7 linked regions of the Homo sapiens genome follow. The protein of the gene in region 7 purifies or fractionates together with the protein of the main gene of each other region. This does not show direct contact. Each region holds a gene or a part of one and is shown on either strand. Other genes may lie near its edges. The genes, in order: NQO1, TBCA, GLO1, LANCL1, KCNT2, YTHDF3 and TEK.

The links.
Region 1: the proteins of TEK (region 7) and NQO1 purify together in Homo sapiens (affinity purification with mass spectrometry; one large-scale study listed by BioGRID and IntAct). This does not show direct contact.
Region 2: the proteins of TEK (region 7) and TBCA purify together in Homo sapiens (affinity purification with mass spectrometry; one large-scale study listed by BioGRID and IntAct). This does not show direct contact.
Region 3: the proteins of TEK (region 7) and GLO1 purify together in Homo sapiens (affinity purification with mass spectrometry; one large-scale study listed by BioGRID and IntAct). This does not show direct contact.
Region 4: the proteins of TEK (region 7) and LANCL1 purify together in Homo sapiens (affinity purification with mass spectrometry; one large-scale study listed by BioGRID and IntAct). This does not show direct contact.
Region 5: the proteins of TEK (region 7) and KCNT2 purify together in Homo sapiens (affinity purification with mass spectrometry; one large-scale study listed by BioGRID and IntAct). This does not show direct contact.
Region 6: the proteins of TEK (region 7) and YTHDF3 purify together in Homo sapiens (affinity purification with mass spectrometry; one large-scale study listed by BioGRID and IntAct). This does not show direct contact.

What each region holds. Positions count from the first base shown.
Region 1 is NC_000016.10:69,719,731-69,723,749, reverse strand, and holds part of NQO1 (NAD(P)H dehydrogenase [quinone] 1), read left to right. Parts: intron 1-4,019. UniProt on the Homo sapiens protein: Flavin-containing quinone reductase that catalyzes two-electron reduction of quinones to hydroquinones using either NADH or NADPH as electron donors.
Region 2 is NC_000005.10:77,773,245-77,777,991, reverse strand, and holds the start of TBCA (tubulin-specific chaperone A), read left to right. Parts: upstream 1-1,652; 5' UTR 1,653-1,734; coding exon 1,735-1,787; intron 1,788-4,747. UniProt on the Homo sapiens protein: Tubulin-folding protein; involved in the early step of the tubulin folding pathway.
Region 3 is NC_000006.12:38,682,240-38,686,258, forward strand, and holds part of GLO1 (lactoylglutathione lyase), read right to left. Parts: intron 2,276-4,019; coding exon 2,135-2,275; intron 637-2,134; coding exon 569-636; intron 1-568. UniProt on the Homo sapiens protein: Catalyzes the conversion of hemimercaptal, formed from methylglyoxal and glutathione, to S-lactoylglutathione. Involved in the regulation of TNF-induced transcriptional activity of NF-kappa-B. Required for normal osteoclastogenesis.
Region 4 is NC_000002.12:210,469,987-210,474,005, forward strand, and holds part of LANCL1 (glutathione S-transferase LANCL1), read right to left. Parts: intron 2,091-4,019; coding exon 1,973-2,090; intron 348-1,972; exon of another isoform or gene 1-347. UniProt on the Homo sapiens protein: Functions as a glutathione transferase. Catalyzes conjugation of the glutathione (GSH) to artificial substrates 1-chloro-2,4-dinitrobenzene (CDNB) and p-nitrophenyl acetate.
Region 5 is NC_000001.11:196,605,420-196,609,877, reverse strand, and holds the start of KCNT2 (potassium channel subfamily T member 2), read left to right. Parts: upstream 1-1,437; 5' UTR 1,438-1,568; coding exon 1,569-1,663; intron 1,664-4,458. UniProt on the Homo sapiens protein: Sodium-activated and chloride-activated potassium channel. Produces rapidly activating outward rectifier K(+) currents. Contributes to regulate neuronal excitability.
Region 6 is NC_000008.11:63,171,533-63,175,551, forward strand, and holds part of YTHDF3 (YTH domain-containing family protein 3), read left to right. Parts: intron 1-1,120; exon of another isoform or gene 1,121-1,208; coding exon of another isoform or gene 1,209-1,266; intron 1,267-2,118; exon of another isoform or gene 2,119-2,149; intron 2,150-3,798; coding exon 3,799-3,884; intron 3,885-4,019. UniProt on the Homo sapiens protein: Specifically recognizes and binds N6-methyladenosine (m6A)-containing RNAs, and regulates their stability. M6A is a modification present at internal sites of mRNAs and some non-coding RNAs and plays a role in mRNA stability and processing.
Region 7 is NC_000009.12:27,227,377-27,231,120, reverse strand, and holds the end of TEK (angiopoietin-1 receptor isoform 1 precursor), read right to left. Parts: intron 2,916-3,744; coding exon 2,816-2,915; intron 1,964-2,815; coding exon 1,889-1,963; 3' UTR 947-1,888; downstream 1-946. UniProt on the Homo sapiens protein: Tyrosine-protein kinase that acts as a cell-surface receptor for ANGPT1, ANGPT2 and ANGPT4 and regulates angiogenesis, endothelial cell survival, proliferation, migration, adhesion and cell spreading, reorganization of the actin cytoskeleton, but also maintenance of vascular quiescence.

The sequences.
Region 1 (4,019 bases), on a different chromosome or scaffold from region 7:
GCTCATTGCAACCTCCGCCTCCTGGATTCAAGCAATTCTCCTGCCTCAGCCTCCCGATTAGCTGGGATTACAGGCACCTGCCACTACACCTGGTTAATTTTTTTTTGTATTTTTAGTAGAGACGGGGTTTCACCATGTTAACCAGGCTGGTCTCTAACTCCTGACATGAGGTGATCTGCCCGCCTCAGCCTCCCAAAGTGCTGAGATTACAGGTGTGAGCCACCGCGACCCACCCACAACCTTCTTTTGATCATTTTTCTTTTGAGTTGTTTTGGGGATCTACCTATTCCAGGTACTGCACTTTGATGGTTATATTTGTTGCAAATATATTATTCCTGCTTGTGTGTTGCCTTACATGAAAAATTGTAAAGTCACAGGCCTGCTTATAGCTATTAGAGTCTGAGCTCCTTGAAAGAGCAAGAGATGGATATCCTGATTTGCTCATTTTCTGAGAAGTGCCTTGACTGTCTTACTACTTAGAAAATGCTTGTTAACATTGATGAGAAGTCAATAAAATAAAAACTGTTGGCTGGGCGCTGTGGCTCACGCCTGTAATCCCAGCAGTTTGGGAGGCCGAGACAGGCGGATCACGAGGTCAGGAAATCGAGACCATCCTGGCTAACACGGTGAAACCCCGTCTCTACTAAAAATACAATTAGCCGGGCGTGGCGGCGAGCGCCTGTAATCCCAGCTACTCTGGAGGCTGAGGCAGGAGAATGGCGTGAACCTGGGAGGCGGAGCTTGCAGTGAGCCGAGATCGCGCCACTGCACTCCAGCCTGGGCGACAGAGCGAAACTCTGTCTCAAAAAAACAAACAAACAAAAACTGTCAGAGCGGCGATCAGTAAACATTGATAAGACTAATGGCAAGGTAAGTTACAAAGAAAATGCCTGTTAGAGCTGAATATGCTCACTTCCCTCCCAATCATGTTAAATCCATGGGTTAAAGAGGTAGGAATTTGTTGAGGCAGCCTCAGAGCTTCCTTTTCCTTTTTCCAAGCTATCCCAAGCAAGTCAATCACTTCCAGCGCATTGAAATCATCACCAGACACCTATTCCACTGAGTCTTAGTTTTAAGAGTCCAAAACCCTAGGACCAAGTTTGGAAATCCCCTGGTTTGGCATATTGGGCCCTGAAAGTTACACTTCGCTGAATTTAGCCCAAGAGGCACTTGCCTTGCTAGATGTGGTCAATAATAAAAGCAGGAAGAGAGCTTAAGGTTTAAATGTGCCTTTCTAGTTATTTTAGTTATTTCTAGTTATTCAGATGGTGCAAAAAAGTTGCAGATGCCGGCTGGGCGCGGTGGCTCACGCCTGTAATCCCAGCACTTTGGGAGGCCAAGGCAGGTGGGTCATGAGGTTAGGACATCGAGACCATCCTGGCTAACATGGTGTCTCTACTAAAACAAAAAATACAAAAAATTAGCCGGGCGTGGTGGCACGCGCCTGTAATCCCAGCTATTCGGAGGCTGAGGAAGGAGAATCGCTTGAACCCGGGAGGCAGAAGTTGCTGTAAGCCGAGATGGCGCCACTGCACTCCAGCCTGGGTGACAGAGCAAGACTCCATCTCCCCCGCCCCCACCCCCACCCTGCCAAAAAAGTTGCAGATGCCTTCTCTCCCAGCTCCACCCACTGTTCATGGTAGGGTATGAAGTAGCAGCGCACATTATCAGGAGCAACTGTGGGGGTAAGCGTCCTTTCTCTGGCAATTCGCTCTATGCCCTTGTACGCTGTTGTTTGTATTTCTCACTGTTTGTAAGTCTCACTGTCGCCCAGGCTGGAGTACAGTGGTGTGATCACGGCTCACTGCAACCTCCACCTCCCTGGCTCAAATGATCTTCCCACCTCAGCTTCCTAAGTAGCTGGGACTACAGGCACACACCACTACGCTCAGCTAATTTTTTTTTTTTTTTTTTTTTTGGTAGAAACGGGGTTTCTCCATGTTAGCCAGGCTGGTCTCAAACTCCTGGGCTCAAGCAAGCTGCCTGCCTCGGCTTCCCAAAGTGCTGGGATTACAGGTGTGAGCCACCACGCCCAGCCACTCTCTGTGTTTTTAAATTATTCCAGCTTCACCACTTAATGACTACACACTTGGGTAACTTGCTTCTCTCCTGTGCCTCAGTTTTCTCATCTGTAACATGGGGCTACTCATGGTATTGACCTCATAGGGTGTGTCTCAGTCTATTTTGTGCTGCCATACATAATACTTGGGACTAGGTAGTTAATAAAAAAGAGAAATTGATTTCTCACAGTTCTGGAAGCTGGGAAGTCGAAGATCAAGGTGCTGGCAGGTTTGGCTGTCTGGTGAGAGCTGCATTTGGAGGAATGCTGCGTCCTTACATAGACGGTGGGAGGTAGAAGGTGGAAGGGCAGGTGAGCCCCGTGCTGGGCGAAGCCTCTTTTATGAGGGCCTTAATCCCACTCATGAGGAAGGAGACCCCCTCGCCTAATCACCTATCACAGGCCCCATCTGTTAATCCTCTCACATTGGCAGCACCTGAATTTTGGAGGGGGACACGTTTAAAACATAGCAGGTTGTCCTGACAAAGGAAGAAAGTGCAGGCCGGGCGTGGTTGCTCACACCTATAATCCCAACATTGTAGGAGGCTGAGGCAGGCAAAATTGCCCCAGCCTGGGCAACACGGCTCCAAATTTGACCAGCCTGGGCAACATGGCAAATCCCTGTCTCTACAAAAAAAAAAAAAAAATTAGGTGTGGTGGTGCACACCTGTAGTATCAGCTACTCAGGAGGCTGAGGTGGGAGGATAGCTTGAGCCTGAGAGGTCAAGGCTGCAGTGACCTGAGATCATGCCACTGCATTCCAGCCTGGGCAACAGATCGAGACCCTGTCTCAGAAAGAGAAAAAGAAAAAAAAGGAATGCAAAGCACTTAGGGCAGTGCCTAGCACTAAGGATCCACTAAATACTGTTCTTGCAAATTGAAGCATGCTGCCTCTGACAACCTTGTTAATATAAAAGAGGCCCATTTCCCTTCTACCTGTACCTCTTTGCCATTTCTTATAAAGGAAGCTGAGCTGTTAATAGTTCAATGTGATTGGCCTGGCACGGTGGCTCACACCTGTAATCCTAGCTACTGGGGATGCTGAGGCAGGAGAATCGCTTGAACCTGAGAGGCGGAGGTTGCAGTGAGCCAAGTTCATGCCACTGCACTCCAGCCTGGGCAACAGAGTGAGACTGTCAAAAAAAAAAAAAAGTTTAATGTGATCACTGCACATTTTTCCCCCTCATACCAAGGTGCTGCAAGTCTACATACAAATATATGTCATTTCTTTTTTTCTTTTTTTTTTGTATTTTCTTTTTTCTTCCTTCCCTTCCCTCTCTCCCTTCCTCTCACTTCTTTCATTTTAAATAAAAATGGGTTCATATTCACTTGCTTTTTTATCAGTTAATAATATAGCATGGATATCTTTTTGAGTCACTACATATAGTTAATTCATTTTAATTTTTTTAATTTTTAAAATTTGTTTATTTGAGACAGGGTCTCCCTCTGTCACCCAGGCTGGAGTGCAGTGCGGCGATCACGGATCACTGCAGCCTCAACCTCCTGGGTTCAAGTGATCCTTCCATCTCTCAGCCTCCTGAGTAGTTGGGACTACAGGCATACACCACCATGCCCAGCTAATTTTTGTACGTTTTGTAGAGAAGGGATTTCGCTTTTGTCATGTTGCCCAGGCTGGTCTTGAACTCCTGGGCTCAAGCAATGTTCCCGCCTTGGCCTCCCAAAGTGCTGGAATTAGAAGCGTGAGCAACCGTACCTGGTCAACAGTCTCTAAAAATTTTTTTTTATGACAAGGTGTCACTATGCTGCCCATGCTGGTCTCCATCTCCTGGCCTCAAGGGATCTTGCCGCCTCAGCCTTCCAAGTAGCTGGATTACAGGCTCCAGCCACTGTGCCCAGCCAGTTTAACTCATTCTTTTTTATATATTTTTTACTTTTATCTTAATTTATTTATTTTTCTGAGACAGGGTCTTACTCTGTCACCCAGGCTGGAGTGCAGTGG
Region 2 (4,747 bases), on a different chromosome or scaffold from region 7:
TTGCACATCAGTATACCAGCCAGCAGAATAAAAATATTTATTGAATTCTGTGCCCATTGTGCACAAAACACAGGTGGAGGAGGTTGGGGAAGGAAGATTTATGGAAGACAAGAATCTTGCCTCTAAACATGTTTATGAACCAGGATTTATAACTACGAAGCTGAACAAAACCCTTACGAAGGACCAAACAATAATTTGAAAAAGAAATATACTAAAAATAATGATGACTACTGGGTGACTCCAAAGCATCCAGGGAAGATTGAACAGGTGGGGTGAGTCATAGTAGACTTTGCTCAGTTTTGATCCTGGATTTAAAGTAACGGCCTTGGGCTGGCGGGATAGAAGGGGATTCCAGGACCAGTCATGAAAGTGAGAATGAGTAAGTCAGGCTAGGGAAGGAAAAAGACAGTCATATGGGTGTCTTTGAAGGATGGTACCAAGAAATTTTAAAAAGGGGGTGGGCTCGGTGGCTCATGACTGTAATCCCAGCACTTTTGGAGGGTGAGGTGGGCCTCACCTGAGGTCAGGAGTTCTAGCCAGCCTGGCCAACGTGGTGAAACCCCGTTTCTACTAAAAATACAAAAAAAAAAAAAAAAAAAAATTAGCCAGGCATAGTGGAACGCGCCTATAATTCCAGCTACTCTAGGGGCTGAGGCAGGAGAATCACTTGAACCCAGGAGGCGGAGGTTGCAGTGAGCCGAGATCAAGCCACTGCACGACAGAGTGAGAATCTGTCTCAAAAAAAAAAAAAAGAAAAAGAAAAAGAAAAGCAATTTTAAAAAGGGCGATTCTGCCCTGTATTCCTCAGGAGATTCTCTTAGGAAGGGACTGCTAGAGCTCACTGTAGATGTGCCTCATTTTATGCAACAAATATATTTTTGAACATATAAAATAGTCAAATGTTGTTCAGCATCTACCATGCGTCAGACAATGAGCTAGGTGTTTTAACCCTTATACCTAATCTGTAAAATGGACATTATTATTTCCATTTTGCAGACTGATCAGCTGCAAGGCTAAACAGCATACGTATCAGTGTTGTCTAGCTAATAGTCTAGCTATTAAAGGGTGGAACCTCGATTGTAAGCCGGTTTGTCTGATTAGGAAGCCCAAGGTTTTGTGTGCGACACACATTCTTGTAAGTTAAATATTTAGGATACACTATAAGTGATCATCTGAAGAAGTTCTGTTAGTCATTTCCTTTGAAAGGCACGTTATCTACAAACCTTCTTGCAGGGATTTGAGGTAAAGGGCAAGGATTTTCTTGACTGCGTGCATGATGGCAGTTTGTTTCACTACACATGCATCACTCTGCCTCATCTGACACCAGATAACGACATCGAAAATACCCTTAATACATTTTTTAGGTCACTCCGTCCATTAAGCAGATAATCCCGCAAAGCAACGTCCCAGAGAGACGTTAGTTTCCCCAAAGGCCCAGGCTGTGGAGACCGGGATAGTGTAACTTGCGCCTGAAGTAAAAAGAGGGGCAGTCCGAGAGAGAGGAGGAGGGCACGTTTCACTACGGGTAAAGGGGCGCACGAGGGGTAAAGGGACTGGCGGGAGCAGGGTACCGCCCTCTAGTAAACCCGCCCCGCGGGGCGTGGCGGGGACGACGGGCCGCGCAGCCTGCGCATGCGCGCCGGCGACCACGCCTAAATAGCCGCAGCCTCTGCGCGTCGCCCTCCACGGTTACCCCGGCTCTCCGCCCCTCCTTCTCGCGGCGCTCGAGGGACCATGGCCGATCCTCGCGTGAGACAGATCAAGATCAAGACCGGCGTGGTGAAGCGGTAAGGAGCCGGGAGCGGCGCCCTGCACCTCCTCTTCGTCACCTCATGGCGGCCCGCGAGGCTGAGCGGAGCGCAGGCCCGAGGAGGCCCGAGGCGGGCTCCGAACTCCAGGCCGCACCCGGGGCTCCGCAGTTGGCTGGGACTGGCAGGGACCCAGCGGGGCGCGCTGACGCCCGAGCCCGCCAGCCTCGCACGCCGCTTCCCGTCCCTCTCCGCTCACTGGCCGCTCTGATTTGCCGGAAGAGTCGGCGGTGGCCCGGTTTCTCGGCGCCCGCGGTGGGAAGGTGGTGGGCCGCGGCCTGCGAGGGCGGGCCGGGCCCTGATCCCGTGCCTCCTGTGTGCGCGCGCCGGCCTCTCCTTGCTGAACTTGGCCCGGGGAAGCGGGATCCCAGCTGTGCTCTCAAATGGGCTTGAAAGCAGGCTCTGAAGTTTAGGGGGATGCGGAGGATCTGGGCCTCGTCAAAAAAGACCGTAGTGGAGCCGTGTGACCTAACATGGCTGGCGTGACTGGCAGGCTTTGAGAACTGGGCCTGAACTTCTAGCACACTCAGCAAACTTATGTGGCCTCACTTTCTCCAGTCAGATTCCCCGAAGCTCGCCCCAGAGGCTGTGAGATGCTGTTTAAATAACTTGTGAACCAGAAGTATCTGAGACAGGTCTTAATTTGGAATGTTTATTTTGCCAAGGACGTGCCCATGACACAGCCTCAGGAGGTCCTGATGACATGTGCCCAAGGCGGTTGGGGCACAGCTTGGTGTAATACGTTTTAGGGAGACCTCAGATATTAGTCAATGGGTAAGGTGTACCTTGGTTCCCTCCAGAAAGGCAGGACAACTAGAAGGTTGGGGGGCATCCAGGTCATAGATAAGAGACAAATGGTTGCATTCTTTTGAGTCTTTGATCAGCTTTTCACTTAATACACAATTTACATGTGAGAGAGGGATAGAAGAATAGTCACTTATGCCTTAGTCGGCTAAATGAATCTGCGATTTTACATACACAGTAGGGCAGAGGAAGCAGTCAGTTACGCATTTGTCTCAGGTGGGTAGAGGGGTGACTTTGAGTTCTGTTCTTTGTCCCATACCTGTGAAGATAAGCTATCAATTTACATTGCCAGGGTGAAATACAACAGAACTGTTTTAGAGTGAAGGTCTTGAGGCCCACAAGGAATTTCCTTGGGGGCAAATTGTCAGGGAGGTATGTAGCTTTTTTTTTTTTTTTTTTAATCTTTGTAGCTATCTTATTCAGGAATAAAATGAGAGGCAGGTTTGCTCGATGCAATTCCCAGCTTGACTTTTCTTTTTGGCTTAGTGATTTTGGGGTCCTGAGATTTATTTTTCCTTTCACAAACTCATGGGTAGTGCAGTCCTGTAATTTGCTTAAATTCCTGTAAACCAAGAAAGTACCTGAGACAGGTCTCAATCAGTTTAGAAGTTTATTTTGCCAAGGTTAAGGATATGCCTGTGACAGCCTCAGGAAGTCCTGATGACATGTGCCCGAGGTGGTCAGGCTACAGCTTGGTTTTATACATTTTAGGGAGACAGAAGACATCAATCAATACATGTACGATGTACATTGGTTTGATCTGGAAAGGCAGGACAACCCAAAGCGGGCTGGGGACAGTTCCAAGTTATAGGAGGTTTTCCAATTGGCAGTTCGTTGAAAGAGTTTATCTTAAGACCTGGAATCAATACAAGGGAGTGTGTCTGGGTTAAAATAAAGGGGTTGTGGAGATCAAGGTTCTTATTAGGCAGATGAAGCCTCCAGGTAGCAGGCTTCAGAGAGAATAGATTGTAAATGTTTCTTATCAGACTTAAAAAGGTCCCAGACTCCTAGTTAATTTTCTAGTGGATCAGGAAAAAGACCTGGACAGGGAAGAGGGTTCTCTACAGAATATAGATTTTCCCCTTAAGAGACATCTTTGCAGGGCCAATTCAAAATATGTAAAGAAATATATTTTAGAGTAAAATGCTTTTATTTCTTTCAGATCCCGCTATCTGTCCTGTGATGCCATACTAGAGTAAAGCTGGAATTTGGTGTCTTATTGTTACAAAAAGCCTTAAGATCTGTTTTAATGTTAATGCTGCTCAATTGTTCCTGAGTTCCAAAGGGAGGAATGTGTAATGAGACATGTCTGACCCCCTCTTCCCATCATGGCCTGAATTACTTTAGAATGCCCTTAGTTGAGAGGAGGGGTCCATTCAGACGGTTTTGGAGCTTAGAATTTTGTTTTTAGTTTGCATTCCTGAGTGCTGGTAGACCCTTCAGTGTTCATTAGAACTTTATTGTTCAGACCCAAGAAGAGCAAACTTTTTGATGAAGTATTACAAGAGAAAAGATAAACAGCCTTCTGAAGAAGCAAGTTATTTTGTTGTAGCAATGTCTACTAAAGAAACCAACTGGCTTCTTCCTGTTCGCCCACCTTTCCTTTGTTTATTGATATTTCCACCAGAGGAAGGACCAGGCAAAAGGGAGAATAAATTCACTTTTTAAGATAATGCTTCTGAGTTTTAGCACAGCATCCCACTTCCCGGGAAGCTTTATTGCCAAGGCAATAAGGAGACCATGTGAGTAGGAGTTAAATGCACAGCCATTTGTGAAGTGAGACTGCTTGGGTTCAGATCTTGATTCTGCCCTTTATTCTATGTTGTGGAATATATTACATTGTGCTGTGCCTCTTTTACCTTATTTGTAAAATAGAGCAAGCACCCAACTCAAGCAGTTGTTGCAAGAACTGCCTGCTATGCTGTTTAATACAGTATGTGGCAAATAGCAAGTGGGTAGTAAATGTTAATAATACTGTTTGGATTCTCATTTTACATATGAGAAACTGAGGTTTAATGAAGTTAAAAAAAGAAAAAAAAAACTTGTCTAAAGTCACACTACTAGTTAGTGGCAATGCAAGGAAAAGGACCAAGGTTTCAAATCTACAACTTTCTCCTTTAAGCTACAGTGCTCCC
Region 3 (4,019 bases), on a different chromosome or scaffold from region 7:
ATCTATAATACATTAAAGAACAAATATAGATCTAATGGGCTGGGTATAAGTAGTTAATTAGTTGCCTTGAATTATAAATTATTTAAAATTAATCAATATCAGCTCATATACAGTCTAATCAGTTAAGAATAATCGACACCAAAAAACAGTAATCATTTACTAATACTTAATAGGTTTGTGGTTGGCATTGACTATAGCAGCCAGCTGAAGCCTGCAATACTGTCATCTTGATTGAGAGACTGGAGATCAAGGCAGAAGTGTATGTGCTAGCAGAAACTGGGATTAGTATTAACTACAGCTTTTTTAAAAAAAAAAGTCTACTGGAAATTAATTCTGAGACTTAAAAGTAAATCATGGTGAGATGGTAAGTGTAATTTTAGATCGAGACTCTGAAATTAAACAACTCCTAAATAAGATTATTTGTGGAAAATAAAAATAATCATATCTCTAATAAATTGATCATACTTAATTAGGACATTAATGTTTTAGGTTTATTAAAATCATAATTATATACATAATACAAAATCACACAAATCTACATATATCACATAAAAACAGGCAAACTTACCGAATCCTCGAGGGTCTGAATTGCCATTGTGGTAACTCTGGGTCTCATCATCTTCAGTGCCCCAATTGCTACAAAAGGAAGGAAAACATAGCTACAATGTCCTAGGGAATAGATATTCTGAAAAGCAAGTAACATCTTTGAAATCTTACCACGTTTATATGCTACTTTACATAATTGGCCTAACCCCTGCTACAAAAATATTAAGTTTTCAACTATAGAAAGGACAAATGGCCAAAGTATGATTTTAACGAGACTAAAGAGACAGTAAATACAGGTACTGGACAAGAACAATAATAAGAATAATAATAATGCTCATTTATTGTGCTAAGTACTTTATATTTCATTTAAACCCTTAAAACAGCTCCATGGGCTAGGTGTGAACATCTCCATTCTATTGATGAAACTGCCACTTACTTGTTTAGAGTCACAGACTCATATCTAAGCCTGCCTGATTCCAAAGCTTTATTTTGAATCAAGGGACACACGAAATCACACACTCTGAAATCAATCTCTTTTAAAGTATGCAGATAAACAATGTAAAGAAATTGCCTACATTTTTAAGTGCTCAAGTTATAAAAATACCAAATTTGAATGTTAATTATTACAAAATGGTTTGAAGAATTTTTAAAGGAACACATGATATCACATTTCTGGATCCAAAATGTAGCAAAATAATAAAAGAACAAAATTTTGGATGCTGAAAGACTAATTATAGTACCTAAAAATTAGTTAGAGACAAACAGGCAAATATCTTACAATTTCAGGGTCTTATATTCTCTTATCTAAAAGACAAATGGAGGCCGGGCGTGGTGGGTCACGCCTGTAATCCCAGCACTTTGGGCGGCCGAGGCAGACAGATCACGAGGTCAGGAGATCGAGACCATCCTGGCTAACATGGTGAAACCCCGTCTCTACAAAAAATACAAAAAATTAGCTGGGCGTAGTGGCGGGCGCCTGTAGTCCCAGCTACTTGGGAGGCTGAGGCAGGAGAATGGAGTGAATCCGGGAGGCAGAGCTTGCAGTGAGCCGAGATCGCGCCACTGCACTCCAGCCTGGGCAACAGAGCAAGACTCTGTCTCAAAAAATAAATAAATAAATAAATAAAAATAAAAGACAAATGGGCCAGGCGTGGTGGCTCATGCTTATAATCCCAGCAGTCTGGGAGGCCGAGGCGGGCGGATCACTTGAGGCCAGGAGTTTGAGACCAGCCTGGGCAACATAGTGAGACCTTGCCTCTATGCCTCTACCAAAAACAAACAAACAAAAACTAGCTGGGTGTGGTGGCACACATGTGTAGTCCAAGGTGCTCAGGAGGCTGAGGCAGGAAGACTACCTAGAAGTTAGAGGCTTCAGAGAGCCTGTCTCTAAAAAAAACACATCTCATTTGCCCAAGAACAATACAAAGATCAAAAGATGCATGAAAAACACTTCAATATATTATTAAAAATGTGAAGTCATAGGCAGATCTGGTTTGAATTATACTGGTCAGTAAACAAAACAAAAAAGATTTTTAAAAACTACCTTAAAAAATCTATAATATATATAAATATAGAAACTCATACTCACTGTGTCAGCTCAAGTGTAGCTTTTCTGGAGAGCGCCCAGGCTATTTTTTCATCTTTTTCTTTAGGGATGTCATTTTTATCCTCATAAGCCAAGAAGTAGAGTGAAAACTTCATAATGGGAAAATCACATTTTTGGATTAGCCTGCAATGAAAAAACAACAAGCCTGAATCATTAACAACAGGAAAGGCTAATTCATACTATAATCAACATAACTTAATATTCAAGTTTTACTAAAAAGAAGAGCTATATGTAGTAAGCCTATTTTAATGGAATAAGCAGGAGGAAAAATCAGTGAAAAAATATCATGAAAAATGCATCTGTAAATATTTGAAATACAAAAATGAAAACTTCTGTAATTCATCAATTCTGTAAATATAGTAACATTTAGCTGAAATTATGGTACTTGTTAATAAATAGAAACGGCTATCTCCAAAAGAGAACTGTGTTTATTTGTACTGAAAAATATAAAGAACCTTGTTGCTATTTCATATATATACACACATACAAACACATATATAAATATGTCATTCAGTTAAATAAACACATTTATTGAGTTCTTACTATGCCAAAACATCTAGGAAAGGAAATTAAGGATAGGTGGTAAGAAAGAAGGAGGAAGGACAGACTAGTATCACAGAAGACGTGAATGTCAACAGTAAGGTGGCTAACAGTATCAGATACTGTAGAAAGGTCAAACAGTATTAAGACTAAGAAAAGGTCATGAGATATGGAAAGGTCCCATGAGAGCAATGTCAGCAGAGTGGGGAAGCATCAGCTGGATTACACTGTACTGGGGAGAGAGAATGGCAGGTGAGCAGGTAAAACAGTAGCAAGCATGGCAGTGACAATGGGGAGGTAGGCGAAGGAGCAGAGGGCAAGAAATATTCTGGAACAAAGAAGACTTACGCTTCTCTGAGGGGAAAGAGACAGTAGAAGAGACTGATGGGAGAGAGAGTGAATGAATTATGAATCCTGAGGTTTTAAGAAAGATAACTGAAGTCCTGAACCTTAAATGACTTTAAATGGTATAGGATTATTTGGCAAGGAGTAAGGTGGCATGAGAATGCATATATGATTTTCTTTAGATTATTCAAAGATGACTTTGTTCATAATCAATAAGAGCAAATGGCTGTTATTGCCATATAGCAAATGGAAAGTTTCTAGAGTTCTGCTTCCAATCTTTTATTTCATTATCACTGCTATATAATAGACCTTGGCCCACTTAGATCCTTGCATTGACTTATCACAAATAAGATTTACTCTAACATGTTTATAATAAAGTATCAAACACCTCAAATACTCCAATCATGAAAAACAATCTCTGCACCTACTAAAGCAGACTACACAACCCTCATGGACCAATCAGTTGGGACTGAAGGAAATGAAACTGTTGCAACTTGCTTTTCTCAGCTGTTCAAATCTTCCAGCTTACTGTCAACTTGTACCCTATTTGGGGGCTCTGCACAGGAAGTCTACATTAGAGCCCATCAGACAATGGATACAGGTTCCAGCCCTGCCATATGCCAACTGTGGGATTTGGAGCTAGTAACTTCATCTCATTAAGCTTTGGTTTCTCCGTCTGTGAAATGGGGATAAAAGCTACCTCCTAAGACTGGTGTGAAGACTGAACAAAATAACATTTGAAGTGCCTGGCAAAAGTGTTCAATAAATCTGTTTTCATTTTGTCCTTTAAATATGTCATAAATATATTCATAATACCTTTTTCTAGAAAAAAATCACAAGAAACTGGACAGCAGTTATCTCTGGGGAGAAGAACTTGGGGAGGGAAGCTATTACTTTTCATTTTGTATTTTTCTGAACTGGTCAAATTTTCTAAATATAGACATATATTACTTAAATTTTTCTCTCAATGTGAATGGAAGTT
Region 4 (4,019 bases), on a different chromosome or scaffold from region 7:
GAATAACAAAATAATAGAAACTCCATATATATTAGAAAAAGATCTGTAAGTTTGAGCCTTATATATTATTACAATGTGGCAATCAAGAGGAAAACTCAAGACAACTGTGCGCTGTGCTTGTCCTGTTTTGTTCAAACCACGATAATTTTAAATAAATAGTAATGTTCAACATTCACTGATGACATTATCTATCAACCACATCACACCTGGAACACAGTAGATAATAAATGGCAGCTGTTATACCTTCCTTCTTGAAACAAAATCCTGTCATTTCATTCTCATTTTAACTTTGTGTTAAGCTTCTACAATCCATAAAAATGATAAAACAATAAAATGGTCCAACATTATCTAGTCCAGTCTTATTTTTACAAAACATTGACTTTAAAAGTCCCTGAGATTTTAATTTTACTGGTTTAATCTGTCTTCCCTACCCTTGTTTAAAAAAAAATAGAATCATGTGTCATTATTGGTTGAGTACCCGTTATCTGAAATCCTTGGGACAAGTGTTTTGGATTTCAAATATTGAAATATTTGGCTTATATTTACCAGTTGAGTATCCCAAATCTGAACATCGGTAATCCTAAATGCTCGATGAACATTCCCTTTGAGTGTCACATCAGAGCTTAAAAAGCTTCAAATTTTGGAGCATTTTGGATTTCAGATTTTCAGATTTGGGATGCTCAACCTGTACTAAAGAGGAAGACTAATAAGAGATTGCTATTATTAATAAATTTCTCTCAGAAAGCTTTCAAACTGCAGTCTGTAGATCACCATCTGCATCAGGACCACTGATGGCTATAAAAGGCAAATTCCTGGGTTCTGCTCAAGATCTACTGAATCACAATCTCTGCTATGAGGCCATTTTTATGACAAATTCCACTCCTTAAAATCAAATTAAAATTCCCTGGATTGCAAGCTTATTCCTCCTTGCCCACTCTTTAAAGCGAATGGGAAACACTGAGTCTCTAGACTATGCTTTCTTCCAGATTACACAGCTGTCTTTTGTTTCTCTACATTTGGTAAATTAATTGCAGTTCTTCAACTTTTCTTCTTTGATTTTTTTTTTTTTTTTTTTTTTTGAGATGGAGTCTTGCTCCATCACCAGGCTGGAGTGCAGTGGAGTGATCTCATCTCACTGCAATCTCCACCTCCCAGGTTCAAGTGATTCTCCTGCCTCAGCCTCCTGAGTAGCTGGGACTACAGGTATGAGCCACCATGCCCAGCTAATTTTTGTAGTTTTAGTAAAGATGGGGTTGCACAGTGTTGGCCAGGATGGTCTTGATCTCTTGACCTCGTGATCCACCCGCCTCGGCCTCCCAAAGTGCTGGGATTACAGGTGTGAGCCACTGCGCCCAGCCTCTTCTTTGATTTTTCTCTTTCTCACCTTTTTTTGACATCAATGCACTGTTTCTTCCTAAACCTCCTCCAGCCTCTCAATGATTGAGATTGGCAATGCAGCAATTGCAAACCAAACAGCAATGACCATATGGGAGGATTAGTTCATGGAAGTAATACTTTACCCTGTATGGATTCCTGTATGGATTCCTGTTACGGGTTAACTTTTTAAAACATGCTTCTGGACATATTTTATTCCTGAGATCAATCCTCATTACCTCCGCTTCAGGCATTGTATTTTGGAACTCTTCCCAATTCTTCCCACTGAAATTACATCTGCAAATTAACTATGTAATATTGAAAATCAATTTTTCTCCTCACAAGTATAGCAGCCATCCAAATGTCAGGCATGAATTACATGAATATGCTTACCATGCCCTAAATTCAGGGCACTATTAAAAACCCAGAAGATACCATGGTTGGTTGGGTTGAGGGCACAGCACTCTCCCAGAAGCAATTACTCATATGCAGATGCAGGAAGCATTTAAGGGTGTACCATTCAGACAGACAGCTCTCGGAAAAATGCTCTGGCTCTTAAGCACAATGCTTATGCCAGCTCACAGTCAGCACTTCATACCTGCCCAGCCAGTGTAACCGGTGCCATCCCGAGGGTCTGCTGATTTCAGGCCTCTCTCCATTTGCTGAAGAAGCTCCCGAATCTTATTGGTCAAGCGTTGTGAGAACTCAGGAGTCAGCTAGATATTAAAGGAAAACAAGTATCAAAATAATGTGGGTCACCCAGCTTGCTGGACTATAAGCTATCAAAGACAGAAAGGTATTTCTTTTCCACTTAGGACATATTTTTCCACCTGGAAGACTAAACAATTTATTTTCTATTCTTAAACAACAACATCACATTAACAAAATTTATAAAATACCGTTGTAACTTATACATGTTTTAAATAAAATTTTTAGTTAAATACTAAAACAGACTGCCAATGATAAACTGGCTCACAGTAATTTTCCACCTAATAGTAATCGTCTATTATTTAAACCAATATTATAATAAAGTCTTTTTATTAAATTAAGCACAAATCAGATGTTTGGTGCTTTCAAACTACTGGATTTTTAGTATTCAAGCTGCAGCAAGGTAAATTCCCTAAAGAAACATCTAATTGCTCTTATTTAAAAAAAAGGATTTAAAAAAAATGAAGTAGCCAAAGAAAAGCAAAACAAATTCATGTATATCAAGAGCCTTAAGCAGAATAGAAAGAATATCAAACTTAGCATCATAAACCCACGTCCAGCACAGTGTCTGGCAGAGAATACGGGCTTCACAAATGTTTCTCAATGAATGAGCCTGTCTACATCCTTACCCGCTATTAGCTGATCTTGCTCAACTCATAACTTCTTTATGTTTCAAATACCTCCATAAAGTCAGGATAATAATAACTGCCACGCCAATTTCAAAAGGTACTTTGGGGATTAAATGAGATAGTGTATCACAAGTCTTTCTCATTCAGGGATGTAAATGTTGACATTTTTACTAATTCTTTAGCAGATCAAGGGTCTAAGGCAAGTAATAGTTTAGATATGGATTGAAAATACACTAAGGCTGGGGCTGTGGGGTTAGTACCACCCATATGAAGGTCCACAGATGCTGTGCAAACAGTGAGGCTCACACAATCATTACGTTATTCTTCTTAAAGGCAAATGAAAAATAATTTTAAACTTCTGCACACACTGAATCAGTGTCTTAAAAAGTCACTGAAGGCCGGGCACAGTGGCTAATGCCTGTAATCCTAGCATTTTGGGAGGCCGAGGTGGGCGGATAACCTGAGGTTAGGAGTTCGAGACCAGTCTGACCAACATGGAGAAACCCCATCTCTACTAAAAATACAAAATTAGTCGGGCATGGTGGTGAACGCCTGTAATCCCAGCTATTCGGAAGCCTGAGGCAGGAGAATTCCTTGAACCTGGGAGATGGAGGTTGTGGTGAGCCGAGATCGTGCCACTGCACTCCAGCCTGGGCAACAAGAGCGAAACTCCATCTCAAACAACAACAACAACAACAACAAAAACCCAAAAAACTCACTTTATTGTCTCCCTCAATAATTTTAAGAACTTGCTGTGATTCTAAGACTTGAATTTCACATAGTAATTAAAATTTCAGAACAATGTGGGGGAAAGTTACAAGGGTATAAACATTTTATTTTACCATGTAAGGATTGTAGAAATAAACCTAACCACTCACATCAGAATCTCATTTTTAAAAATGAGATAAAATCTTAACACTGAAAACAGCAAGAAGGCAGTATCAGAATTAACAACAACAACAATAGTTTAAGGATACGTTAAGATTCACTTCGGAGGAGCATCCTTGATAAGGCAAATCAGACTTTCAACCACATCTGGATTATTTAATCTAAAGCACCACTATGATCCCTTATTTCACTCTTTAGAAGAAACGACGTTGTTTGACAGACACACTCCCATTATTTAACAATTTCTGCAAAGAGGTTAAGATTTCAACTAGACTTGAAAATACATTTAGTAGGATAAAATATACTTCAATGTTAATACAAAAGGCCTATAAATCTCAGCTAGATAGAAGAGTGCATCTATATTGAGAACACGTCATCTACTGTATATAGATCATATATAATTTATCATCTTGCCTGGCC
Region 5 (4,458 bases), on a different chromosome or scaffold from region 7:
AAGCCAAATATTCTAAAAAATCCCTATGCCTCTACTCATACTATTCTCTCTGCTTGCTTCACCTTTGCTCTTTTCCCTAAAGTAGGCTGCGAACGAATATAGAAGGCTTGGTTCATTTTCAATGTCTTCCTTGACCCCCACCTCGAAGAAGTATGTGTACCTCACAGGTATTTCCAAATCCCTCTGTATGTTCTTTGATTATTGTCTCTCACATCGTATCCATTTATCAAGGAACAAGCTTGTTCCTCCACACAGAGCGGTTCTTAAGTAAGGGCAGGAGAAGCCATATGGTTATCCTCCGGCCCAGGCTGTCAGGTGGTTGGTATTCGGTCTGTATATACTCTGATGCAATCAGTTTTTGAAGGAAAGAACGGTAAGCGCAAATAGAACCATAGCTTGTGTAGCAGGGTTCATGTAAGCAGTGGTTCTTACTGAAAAACAGACCCTGTTCTCTCGGGCTCACTTCTTCCTCCGTGTGAACCACTAATAGGAGGGGACCGAAGGCTGAGGCCAGGCCACCTGGAAGCCCACAACGCTGCTAGTAGCAGCGACAGCAGTAACAGCAACTCACCACTGTAAAATCCTCAGTGCGTTTCCATGTGCTTTCCCTGTCATCTAAATGCTTCTCTTCAGCGGCCTAAGGTGGCCCTTCTTTTTCCCCGAGTTCAGGGAAACACCTCCCTTCTTTCAGAATGTGAGAAAAAAATGGGATTTTCCTGGGGCTGAGAGTGGGGATTCCCTTTCCAGAAACGTGCAATTTTTTCATCCCGCCCACCTGGACTGAAGGCAATCAAAGCGAGGGAGCTCGTGGCATAGTGGAACACTCCAAGCACCCTGGCCCCCCTCCTCCCAGAGAAGGGTCTGGAGCCCCGCAATCCGCTAATTAGCTCGCCCCCATTGGTTGTCCCCAAGGCACCCCCGTGCCGTCACTGTGCTATGCTAATGAGGGGGAGTCTCATTGGCTGGGCCTCCAGCTCCATCTCCACAGGGAGATTGCGGGGAGAGCCGGGTTGGCCGCGTCTGGGGCCGAAACCCACCGCCCCCGATTCCCGCCAGCTCAGGGCTGTGCCGGATGCAAGCCCGCCCGAGGGAACAGTAGCCGGGAGGCTGCCCTCTGGGAGGATCTGGCAACTGCCTTTAAGGAAAGTGCTTCACCATCAAGCGGCGCTCACTCCCACCCCTCTCCCCTCTTTCTAGGCACCGCGCGTCTTTTTCGGCGAAGTAACTTTTTATACCCGCCTCCCCCTAGTCCTGGGGACCAGAGGCGGTGCCGAGCCTGGGGGCGGTTCCTTGGCAGCGTTGATTCTTGTCAGAGCCAGACTTTTGCTCCTGGGTTGGGTTTGCATCATCCCCATTACACCCTCGGGAAAGAGGAGCCAGCCCCCTTTCAAGCCTTAGCTTCCGGCTCCAAGCGGACCCCCTCCCCCTCCCTGTCCCCTTCCCCTTCTCCCATCCCTCTCTCGGCCACAGCGTCTTGTTAGTCCTCTCCCTGTACTCCGCAATATTTTCTTTCTTTCTCCCTCCTCTCCTCCATTTGTTGTTTGATGTTTCCCACTCTTTGAGGAAGGATGGTTGATTTGGAGAGCGAAGTGCCCCCTCTGCCTCCCAGGTACAGGTTTCGAGATTTGCTGCTAGGGGACCAAGGATGGCAAAACGACGACAGGTGAGTGGTGTGGTGGAGGATTGTTCTGTAAATATTGCTGAAAAAGAGACGGAAATGGGAGGGCCGAAGTGGGGAAAGGAGGGAGAAAAGGAAAACGGAGCCAGAGAGGGAGACTAGGCTGGGGGAGGGAGTAAAAGAGACTCTGATTTGTCTCTCCATTTTGACTCTATATAACTGTTGCTATAGATAAGGAACTCTTTTTCTTTACACTTTTCTTATTCTTGCAAGGTATTTATTGCATTCATTTGGTGCTTATTCTTTTGTCTATCTGTGCTTTTCTAGGATGTGTATAAGGCTGGTATCAGAGGTACAATACACCCAAATGGTATGCAATATCATTTCCAGAAAATTTGCATTTTTTCCTTAGGTGTGGTTAATCAAACTCAAAATTGCATGCAAGTTGTTTGAAAAAGCACATTAGAAACTTAAAATCTCCTGAGTCTATTTACCTCCTCCTTGTCTGTGTTGTCTTGAGTAGGTATCTACTTGGCACTGGAAATTTTATGCTGTTTAAACATTTTGGAGTTTTAAGTAGACAATTGGTTTAAATATGTAACAGGTAGTTAGTGAAAATGACAACCTTTTTAATACAATATACTCACTTTGAACAGGTGACTCTGACCATTATGAATAATGATGTTTGTATAACATGATACAACCTTTTCATAACTAGTATATTTTTTTAACTGAAACAGAATATATGTCTCAAAATTAAAATTAAGTTTCAAAACTAGAATATTTATTGTTAGCAAAATATTGTTCATGTGTTTTATTTATAGCATTACTGCTTTGCACAAACTTCTGAAATTCCTCTGTCTATTTCTGTCTCAAGCACATTTTGTATTTCAGCGAATTTAGTATTTTCTGGAATAGTCATCCCATATATCACATGCCACATTTCTTTGTTTTAAAATAATACATGTATACTAACTAGGTTCTCAACTCAATTGAAATGTTTCATTGAAGTTTAGTTTAGTATTGATGTGCTATTTTAGTTATATAAAAGATCCATTATTGGTCCAATCCAAAATCCCCTCCTCATTCACCACTGACCAATACACTCTATTTCTTTTCTTCACCTTTTCAGCTCCCAATACCAACTCCTGTCTCTACACACTGAGGATTTTATCTTGAGCATCAATTATGGGCATCTTGTTTGGTCTCATATTAGTAATTTGAAAGGAGATGGATGTTTTGTAGAGGATATTTTGGTTCAATCTCTTTTTTAGGCAAAACCACACATATTGGCTAAAAATTTAAAGAAGTAATACCAATTTCTCAGTATTCTTGTAAAGTGTTTGGGTAAACTGAAGATAAAGAAAATAATTTTTAAGTGAATTTGTAATACAAATTGACATTTAGATAAACTGCATTAGCCTGGTTAAATGGCTTAGTAAGTGTAGCATGGTGTTCCTAGTGACTGAATGTATATTTAGTTCAGGACCTCAGGATCATTATATAGAATAGAAATCCTCTTTGTAGAAAGTGTGAGATAGATTAAACACATAAAGCACATACTTTGGTTATAGTGATGGTATTGTTGTTTGTTTGTTTTAAATATCATATCCAATATGTTAATTTTCATGTGGTTGCCCTCATTTTTCTAAGGATGCTGCAGAAATATTTTAGTAATTAAGAATTTTGGTTAGTTGAACACTGCCTAAATGGATCAGTGCCATATTAAAAAAGTTTTGCAGAATGGTTAAAATTTTATGTTCTATTAAAAGGTTATGCTAGCCCAACTTTAACTTAAAAAGCAGGCCACATTTACTACTAAAATAAGTTATTAAATATTTAAAACAATCATTCAACCATTTTTAAGGATTTGGCTACTTTTGTGGCTTCATGGAAAACTATTCTTTGGTTTTGGTTCCATTTGTTGTTAATCTTTGAAGGCAAGATACTTGGAATCAGAGAAACCCAGATTCAGTCCTTGGCTGTTTCCTTCACTAGCTGAGTGGCCTTGGGAAAGTCATTCAGCCATTATGAGATTCAGCAATATTATTTTTTATAATGGGAATTATACTGTCTACCTTATAAAACTGTGACAAGAGGAAGGATGGAGAGGCGCAGAACTAACATTTAGTTGGAAATAAGTACTCCCAAGTTCTTTTAACTGTGCGGTATGTTCTTTCTTAGTTAATCCTCAGACAAACTCTGAATAGCAGGCAATTATGTTAGGCACAAGGAAACTGAAATTTTGGTAAATTAAATACGTGTCTTGGATATTATATCTTATCAGTGTAAAGATAACTCTTCAGTTCAGTTTATTATTATTCAAATCCCTCAAGAAATTCTTAAGTTCTTTTCACTTAATTTATTTGAACTTATAAGAATAATTTACAGCACCTAGCATAGTTTAGGTGCTCATTAAATATTAGTTCCCTTCTTCACTTCTGATTTGCCCTTTGCAATCCTTTTTTTCTCCCTTTTCAGACTCCTAAGCTAATATGTGGTAGGTAAAGTCATCTTCCTTGTCTATAATATGGTGACAAATTCCTCTTTGCAATTACGCCTGGATAGCAATCTCATTCTACTCAGTTATCTTCTTGGACTCAATTCTTATAGAGTTGAGGAGGAAGCCCTCTTTCATGTAGGAGTAGGTAGATCATTTCCAACAACAGATACATTTAGTGCTCTGCCCATATTCTCAAAGCAACTTTCTTTGAACACCTCCTGCATGAGGTTTTCTCCCCACCACCAACCTCAGGTGCATCCAAGTCCTGCTTGGAGAACAAGCTGGAGTGTCACTGAGTAAATAGGCTGTTTCTGAATCAATACTTTTGCTTCCTTGC
Region 6 (4,019 bases), on a different chromosome or scaffold from region 7:
TAACAAATATACGTTACTTGTATTTTTATGACTGCAGGGAGAATTACAAGGCAAAGGCAACACTACCAGTGAACCTGATATAAGTAGCTATGTGTGTATTTGAGAAAAGCTTTTCTGCCTTAGCTTGTTCCCAGCTCGTAAAATTGTTTTACAATTCTGTTTACTTTCATGAAGTTATTTTTCTTGAACTGCAACCTCAGTATTCTAAATATGAGTAATCTTGAATTCTGAACTTAGCAAGCTTATGAAAAATAGTATGTCCTTGAGAAGTTGGTGTCAGTTAAAGTTTTGAACACGTAATCCTTTTCAGTCAACTTACTATAATTTCAGAGATCCTGTTTCTTTTCTGAATTGTCTTTAGTTGACAGCTTTAGCCTAACACCTAGTTTTAGTGTCTTTGATTTTCTATATATCCTTAATTACTTAATTCATTACAGAAGCCAAAAGGAATTCTAAATAATTGTCTTTGATATGGCAAAAATGTTTTTTGTAGAATAAGTAATAATTCAAGGTTTACTTGTTTTATAAGTTTGAATTCTTTTTTAATTAAGTCTGTCCCTGTGTTAAATATCAGAACTCTTTATTATCCTTGGCAAGAGTAGTACCAAAGGATAGTAGAAATTTAAGGATAATTATTTGCCTATTGGTTCATAATTTAACACTTCGTATTTTATTTTTTTATTAAGTAGAATTTTTGCTTATTGGAATAAAGGTGTGCAGTACTTTTATTTGGGAGTACTATGGTTGGAAGTGTCAGATGCCATACTTACAGTCTTAGGCCTTACTGCCTCCTTTCTCCTCTAAGTTTATAAATAGCAAATTCATGGAACAGGATTTATCTTTTTCCTCCTCTCCGCTCTCTTCCAACGGAGAGACGTATGCATTGTTTTATACAACTGTAATTTAAAATAATTAGGTTAAATTTGGCTAAGTTTTAATTTTCGAAAAGTAGTGGAAAATGCCTTATATTTTGGCAATATTCTGTTGTATTCTCTCCTCGTCCTCCCGAGAAATGATTTCAAAGCACTTTACTATCATTATTTTAGGCTTCATTTTATCAATCCTCACAACATCCTTGTAAGGAGATAGCGGGTATATGGTATTGTCGCTGTTTTTGTAGGTGGGGAAACATGATGCACAGATCTGTTGACTTTCCTAACTTGATGTAGTCAGGACCAGAGCAAAGAATCACCTGGCTCCTAAGGCCCATGTTCTATCTTGATTTGACTCTGTTTCATAGAGCAGAGGAAACAGGCGAAGAATCATGTAAGTCATCTGTTCTTTTTACCCCTGAAGAAATTTTACAGACTATGGAACTAGCTTGGATTTCATTTCTATTTAATGGTTTTCAGACTCCAAGACATTAGCTTGTCATTAAGTAAATATTCAAAAACGAAAGTCTTTAAGATAGTTTTCTTTAAGATACACTTCCAAAACTTAAGGGCTAGTTTAATGCAAATTGCTTCTCGGTATATGTGAAGTACTTTTAATTAAACATTTTTTAAAGTAGATTGACTTTTTGTACTATATTTTAAGACTTTATAGACATTTATGCATCATTTAAAAATGACCGTAGACTGTATTTATAATAGTATATGGGTTGTTCTCAGGCCTAGCCTCTTAGAAGAGAAATAATAGAACAAAAAAAATAAGAATAACAGGATTATATTTATATATATATACAGATAAATTTTAAGTAAGTACTTTTTCCTTTTTTTTTTTTTAAATAGAGGCAGAGTCTCACTCTGTACCCCAGGCTGGAGTGCAGTGGCATAATCATAGCTCAGTGTAACCTGGAATGCCTTGGCTCAAGTGATCCTCCTTAGACTCCTGAGTAACTAGGACTATAGGCACATGCCACCACTCCTGGCTAATTTCTAAACATTTTTCGTAAAGGTGGGATCTTGCTGTGTTGCCCAGGCTGGTCTTGAGCTCCTGGCCTGGCACTTTTTGTATTTGTATGAACTAGATTTTCGAGAACCTAGTGGATATGAGAGATAGTTAGTCATAATTTTTAAGTTGTTAGCTGTTTCAAATACTGACTAACATGTATGAGTGTAATAGTGAAGAATTTTTTTTCAAGAAGTAATAGACCATGCATACTTACCTTTGATTTAGGAGCAGTAAAGCCAGTGTCAGAGGAGAACAGGTATGTCAGAATCTCTTGGACTGAAATGAATAACCCAGCCTTATAATGGCACTAGAAGTAACCTAAGGCACCCTCTTTATTTTGGTTTCTAGTGGCTATTACATATTTAAATTCCATGGAGCATATTTAGCTCAATCCTAGTTCTGATGCAGTCCTTATCAGACATAGTTAAATTATGTTAGTGGAGCCAGGATCAAGTTGACCTTCAGGTTGCTTCTTGTGGCCTCTGAGGGGCAGTGTGGTGTAGTAAGAAGTCTACTTTGAATGCTTTACACAGTAACATCATATCTTTGATCTTTGCCACTCATTGGATGGCAAAGATTTAAGGGATTTTGTATATCTTTGCTCCCAAGCCACTGTTAACTCATAATATTACATTTTAGGTGCTCTACACTCATGGGAAAATTTAAGGATAATAAAAATGTTATATTACAGAGGAATACGCAATTTAAACCCGTCACCCTCCTAACTTCATAAAATTTGGTGATGTTGTACCTTTGAGCAGTAAATCTTTAGATACTGAGTTCTTTTTGTTTCTAATTTGTAGACATCCATCGGAAACTTTCAACTTTATCTTCACTAGTATAGAATAGTATATTTACATAGTGCCACCTCATCAAGTATTAGCTTAGTAACACTTCTGTTTAAATGGTTCTAAAGTCATATTAGTCCTATTTGGATCTTGTAATATTTAATGTGATTACATTTAAGATTATTGAACACTGTCATTTAATAATCAGATGAGATGAGGTAGGTACTATTCATACATAACCTTCTGAAACAGCGAACAGTCAAAGGTTAGAGAGTTTAAATCCCTAACTGGAGATCATCTCCTCAGTGCTGGACTTGAGATTCAAATTCGGGACCTTACTTCTGAGTCTGCTCAAAAGCACTCTGAAACAGCATCCAGAGAATAACAACTTTAGAGTGTTTATGGAGATGACCTTTGAACAAAATTATTCTCTGACTTGTTTCTCATGTATTGCAAGGATAATTATGGCTATCTTTTGTGTCTTAATTTTGTTTGTAGTTTCATGTGAAAGTCTTCATTCTGGGGGGCTTAGAATTAAAGCCCTCTTTATTTAGATATTTCATAATTATAAGTCTATTCATTGTGATATTGTTTCAAGTTAATTTTAGCCTAAACTTTACTGGAGACATTTAAGACATTTACTATAACAAATTAGATCGAAAATAGTTATTTCATTCTTTATTATACTAAATAATTTAGAGATTTAAACAAAGGTAGAGAACATTCAGAAATCTTTTTTATTGCCTACAACGCTACTTGAAATAGTTATTTTACATTCAAATATAGCATTAGGGAACTCTTTCCAACATTCTTATGTAACAATTTACTCACTACAGTGTTGAGATTGGGATATTTACTTAAAGTTTTTGGTAAGGGGAAGTGTATATATGGCTTGTGTTTATGTAATCTTGGGCTTATGTATCAAAAGACTTTTAAGTTTTTGTGGCACATGAATATTTGTATCTAAAATAGTTTATCCTTAAGAGGGTTCTTAAAAATAACTCAGTATTATTTTTTCTGATTACTTTTTTTGGCTTGAAAAATATTAAAAACATTAGGTTGTGCTGCGAGTTTCATAAAGATAACTACAACACTTCTAATACAAACATTTTTTTAGTTTCAGTACAAAACGGTTCGATTCATCAAAAAGATGCTGTAAATGATGATGATTTTGAGCCATACTTAAGTAGCCAGACAAATCAGGTAAGTCTTCTGACAGTTTCAGATTTTAGGAAATTAACCTTTTATTAGTATTAGTTGATTTTTCAAATAGATTATTTAATGAGATTAACCATAACATGGATTCATTCATCTAGTGTACCTATATAGTAAGTGAGT
Region 7 (3,744 bases):
CTTTTGCTGTGCAGAAGCTCTTTCGTTTGATTAGATCCCATTTGTCAATTTTGGCTTTTGTTGCCATTGCATTTGGTGTTTTAGTCATGAAGTCTTTGCCCATGCCTATGTCCTGAATGGTATTGCCCAGGTTTTCTTCTAGGGCTTTTATGGTTTTAGATCTTACGTTTAAGTCTTTAATCCATCTTGAGTTAATTTTTGTATAAGGTATAAGGAAGGGATCCAGTTTTCTGCATATGGCTAGCCAGTTTTCCTAACACCATTTATTAAATAGGGAATCATTTCCCCATTGCTTTTGTCAGGTTTGTCAAAGATCAGATGGTTGTAGATGTGTGGTGTCATTCCTGAGGCCTCTGTTCTGTTCCATTGGTCTATATATCTGTTTTGGTACCAGTACCATGCTGTTTTGGTTACTGTAGCCTTGTAGTATAGTTTGAAGTCAGGTAGCCTGATACCTCCAATTTTGTTCTTTTTGCTTAGGATTGTCTTGGCTATGTGGGCTCTTTTTTGGTTCCATATGAAATTTAAAGTAGTTTTTTCCAGTTCTATGAAGAAAGTCAATGGTAGCTTGATGGGGATAGCATCTCGTTTCTATGAGTTACTCTATGGTAAAATTGGTTTCACTACATAGTACTGCAGTTTCCACAAACCTATCAATGACATTGTGTGAGGACTTTATTTAACATTGTAACACAATTAAAAGGAATTCCAATTCTAAGCCCTTGGTTCACACTGGAACACTCCCAAAGGTGTACTGCCTGTTGCAAGAAAAAGAAATAAGCAGTAGAACACTTCTAGGAGACCTTTTCAATCTGATGAGCTTCAGATTCCGTAACTGGTGGAGTATACTCGCACTACTCTAGGTGCTAGGGATGGATAATTTAAACGATTTTTCTTTAAAGTATAATAAGGACATGTGGCAATAGCTATGAGACACACTCCTGGATGAGACGTGAGTAGGCAAGACATTTATTCACTCATGATATATCAGTGCAAAGTGTGCCTACAGTATACAAGGTAAACTCACAACTCATCAAAACTAAAACTTTTTACAATGTGCAATACATGTAGGGATATTAATTCAATATATAAATGTCACATGTCTCCCAAATGTCACCCAGGCTTTCTGTTATTTCTTAAAATATACAAGTCAATATTACCAGAGAAAAGAAAAGAAAATCCCATTATTTTATCCTAAACTTATGTATACTTCTCTAAAGATTCTTAGGCTTGTAAGCAATGAGATTTAAGTCTATTTTTAGATGTTAGCATCCTGGACTGACTTGCAGGCTGTGGAAACACAAGACAGAGTGGTCACATGACTAAATGAAACGGGACTGGCTGCTACAGGTGAGGGATAAAATTGAGAGAGAAGAATCTGATTTATATCACTTAGATTTTTCAGTGTCTTAAATATTAACCTATGACTTGTTAGAATTCATATAGTTCTCTCACTTAACCTGTACTATCAGGGTCATTGTTAGGTTTATTAACAATATTTTACTTTGACACAGGAAAACATTTAATAGCATTCAACATAAAGGTAAATATCAAAATATCTAGGACAACAATGAGTTATGCATTATACTAATTGTACTCACGCCTTCCTATGAAGTCCACATTTTTAAAAAAATATATTATTGCATATGAAACCACAAACAGGCATTCTGATTTCAGCCCATTCTTAAAACAGTATATACAGTCCTATTAGAGTCAGAGCATACTACATAGATCCATGCATGGGATCTACAGTGGTGAAGGTCCCAGGTGTACAGCACATATGTACACTTATATATCACATCCTTTGGCAGAGGCATGTTTTCTCAGCAGGTGTCAAGGGTCTCCCATGCCAGTGAAAGGGAAACAGAGGGTATACAGATGTTCTGTCCTAGGCCGCTTCTTCAGCAGAACAGTCAATTCCTGCATAAGTAAACTTCTCATAAAGCGTGGTATTCACGTAGGTCTGGAAGAATGAAAATGGTTCAGAGACATAGGCTGCTTTGATTCCACCTCTGCCAGCGGCAGTTACAGCAATACCTTGGTTTTCTTAGTTTGTTGCAACTCATATACTAAGCACTTGGGGGATACTTTTCTGTCCTCAGTCCCTCTGTTGTATTTGATGACTTTCTTCCTAAAATGCATCCCCTTGCGTTCTGCAAGTAAGATTTCATACTGTATCCTCAGTTTCTGAGCTTGCCTTTCTCACAGTGTCTTATTGGTACCTCCTAATGTGTTCAGCTTCCCTAGGGTTCCTTCTTCTGGGTTCCTTCCTCTGTCTGAATCTCATTTTCACATCTGTGTGATCTCACCTGCATCTCTAGTTGAATTACCACTTGGGTTTTGATGACTATTTCTTTAAACTGTGTTTACTTTTATTTTGACTCCCAGATCGGTACAGCCAACTTACTTCTAGAAATTTTTATGGAGTTCCTGACCCTCATTATAGTAACCTGCAGGTCAGGCTCTGTTGTCTACTTGCTGTGTGTCCTTGGTCAAGTCACCCACTTCTGAGTCTGTTTCTTCATCTATAAAATTAAAGGGTCAGGCTATATGACGAAAATTCCTTCCAACTCTAATAGGCTAATTCTGTATGTTATTCTAGTGTGTACGTGACTGTATCTTGTATAGAAATCTTATTTCCCCCCAAAATTGTAACTTCTTCAAAGTCGCGGGGGTGGAGGGACATCCTTTGTTTCTATAATACTTAGGGCCATGCCAAGAAGAACTTCTTCAATTATTTCAATGTTTTTTATGAACCACCCTGGGCACATCAGGTATTCCAATTAAAGATCTCCTGCCTGACTTTAATACTTACCTTTCGCTCCTCTAACATTCTGTTTAAGGACACCAATATCTGGGCAAATGATGGCCTCTCATAAGGCTTCTCCCGCCAGCATTGTCTCATTAGATCATACCTTCGAAAGCAAAGAATTAAAGGGTTAATTCTATAACTGTGCTTCAGTCCTAGGCACGGCAGGAAAAGAGAGGAGAGAATGAAGCCACCCAATGCATGGTTATGAAGCTTAACCAAAGTACAGCCCCTAGGAAGTTTCTATGAGGACTCCCACCTCCCTAAGCCAGTCTCATTTCAACTCCTCATAGATTTAGTTCCTACCCTCGGTACTGTTTCTGCAGGACCTTGGTCTCAGCTATTGCAATCATCTAGAAAGAACTGGGTATGTGTCTAGAGCAGCATTTGCCTTGGAATGCTGCATATTTCAAAATGTTAGTGTCTCTTAAAGGGCCCATGCTCAAACTTGTAAAATGCCACCCACATAAAGTCCCTTTAAGAGGCAGGACTTTTAGAAGCACTGTCATTAAAAACAAAAAAATGCCTGTTTAACCAGGTGCTATGGACTGAATGTTCATGCCACCCAAAAATCATGTGTTGAAACCATGTGATGGTGTTTGAAGGTAGGTCCTTTGGGAGGTGATCAGGTCATGAGGGTAGAACCCTCATGAATGGGATTCGTGCTCTTACACAAAAGGCCTCAAAGAGCTCTTTTGCCCCTAGTGCCACGTGAGGACACAGCAGAAAGATGGCCATCTATGAGCTAGGAAATGGCTCATGGCCACCAAATCTGCTAGCGCTTTGATCTTGGATTTCCCAGCCTTCAGAACTGTGAGAAATACATCTCTGTTGTTTATAAGCCACCATGTTTATGGTATGTTGTTACAGCAGCCGGAAATGACTAAGACAACAGGTTTAACACAAAGTTTCCAAAGTAATTGACCGCAGAACTC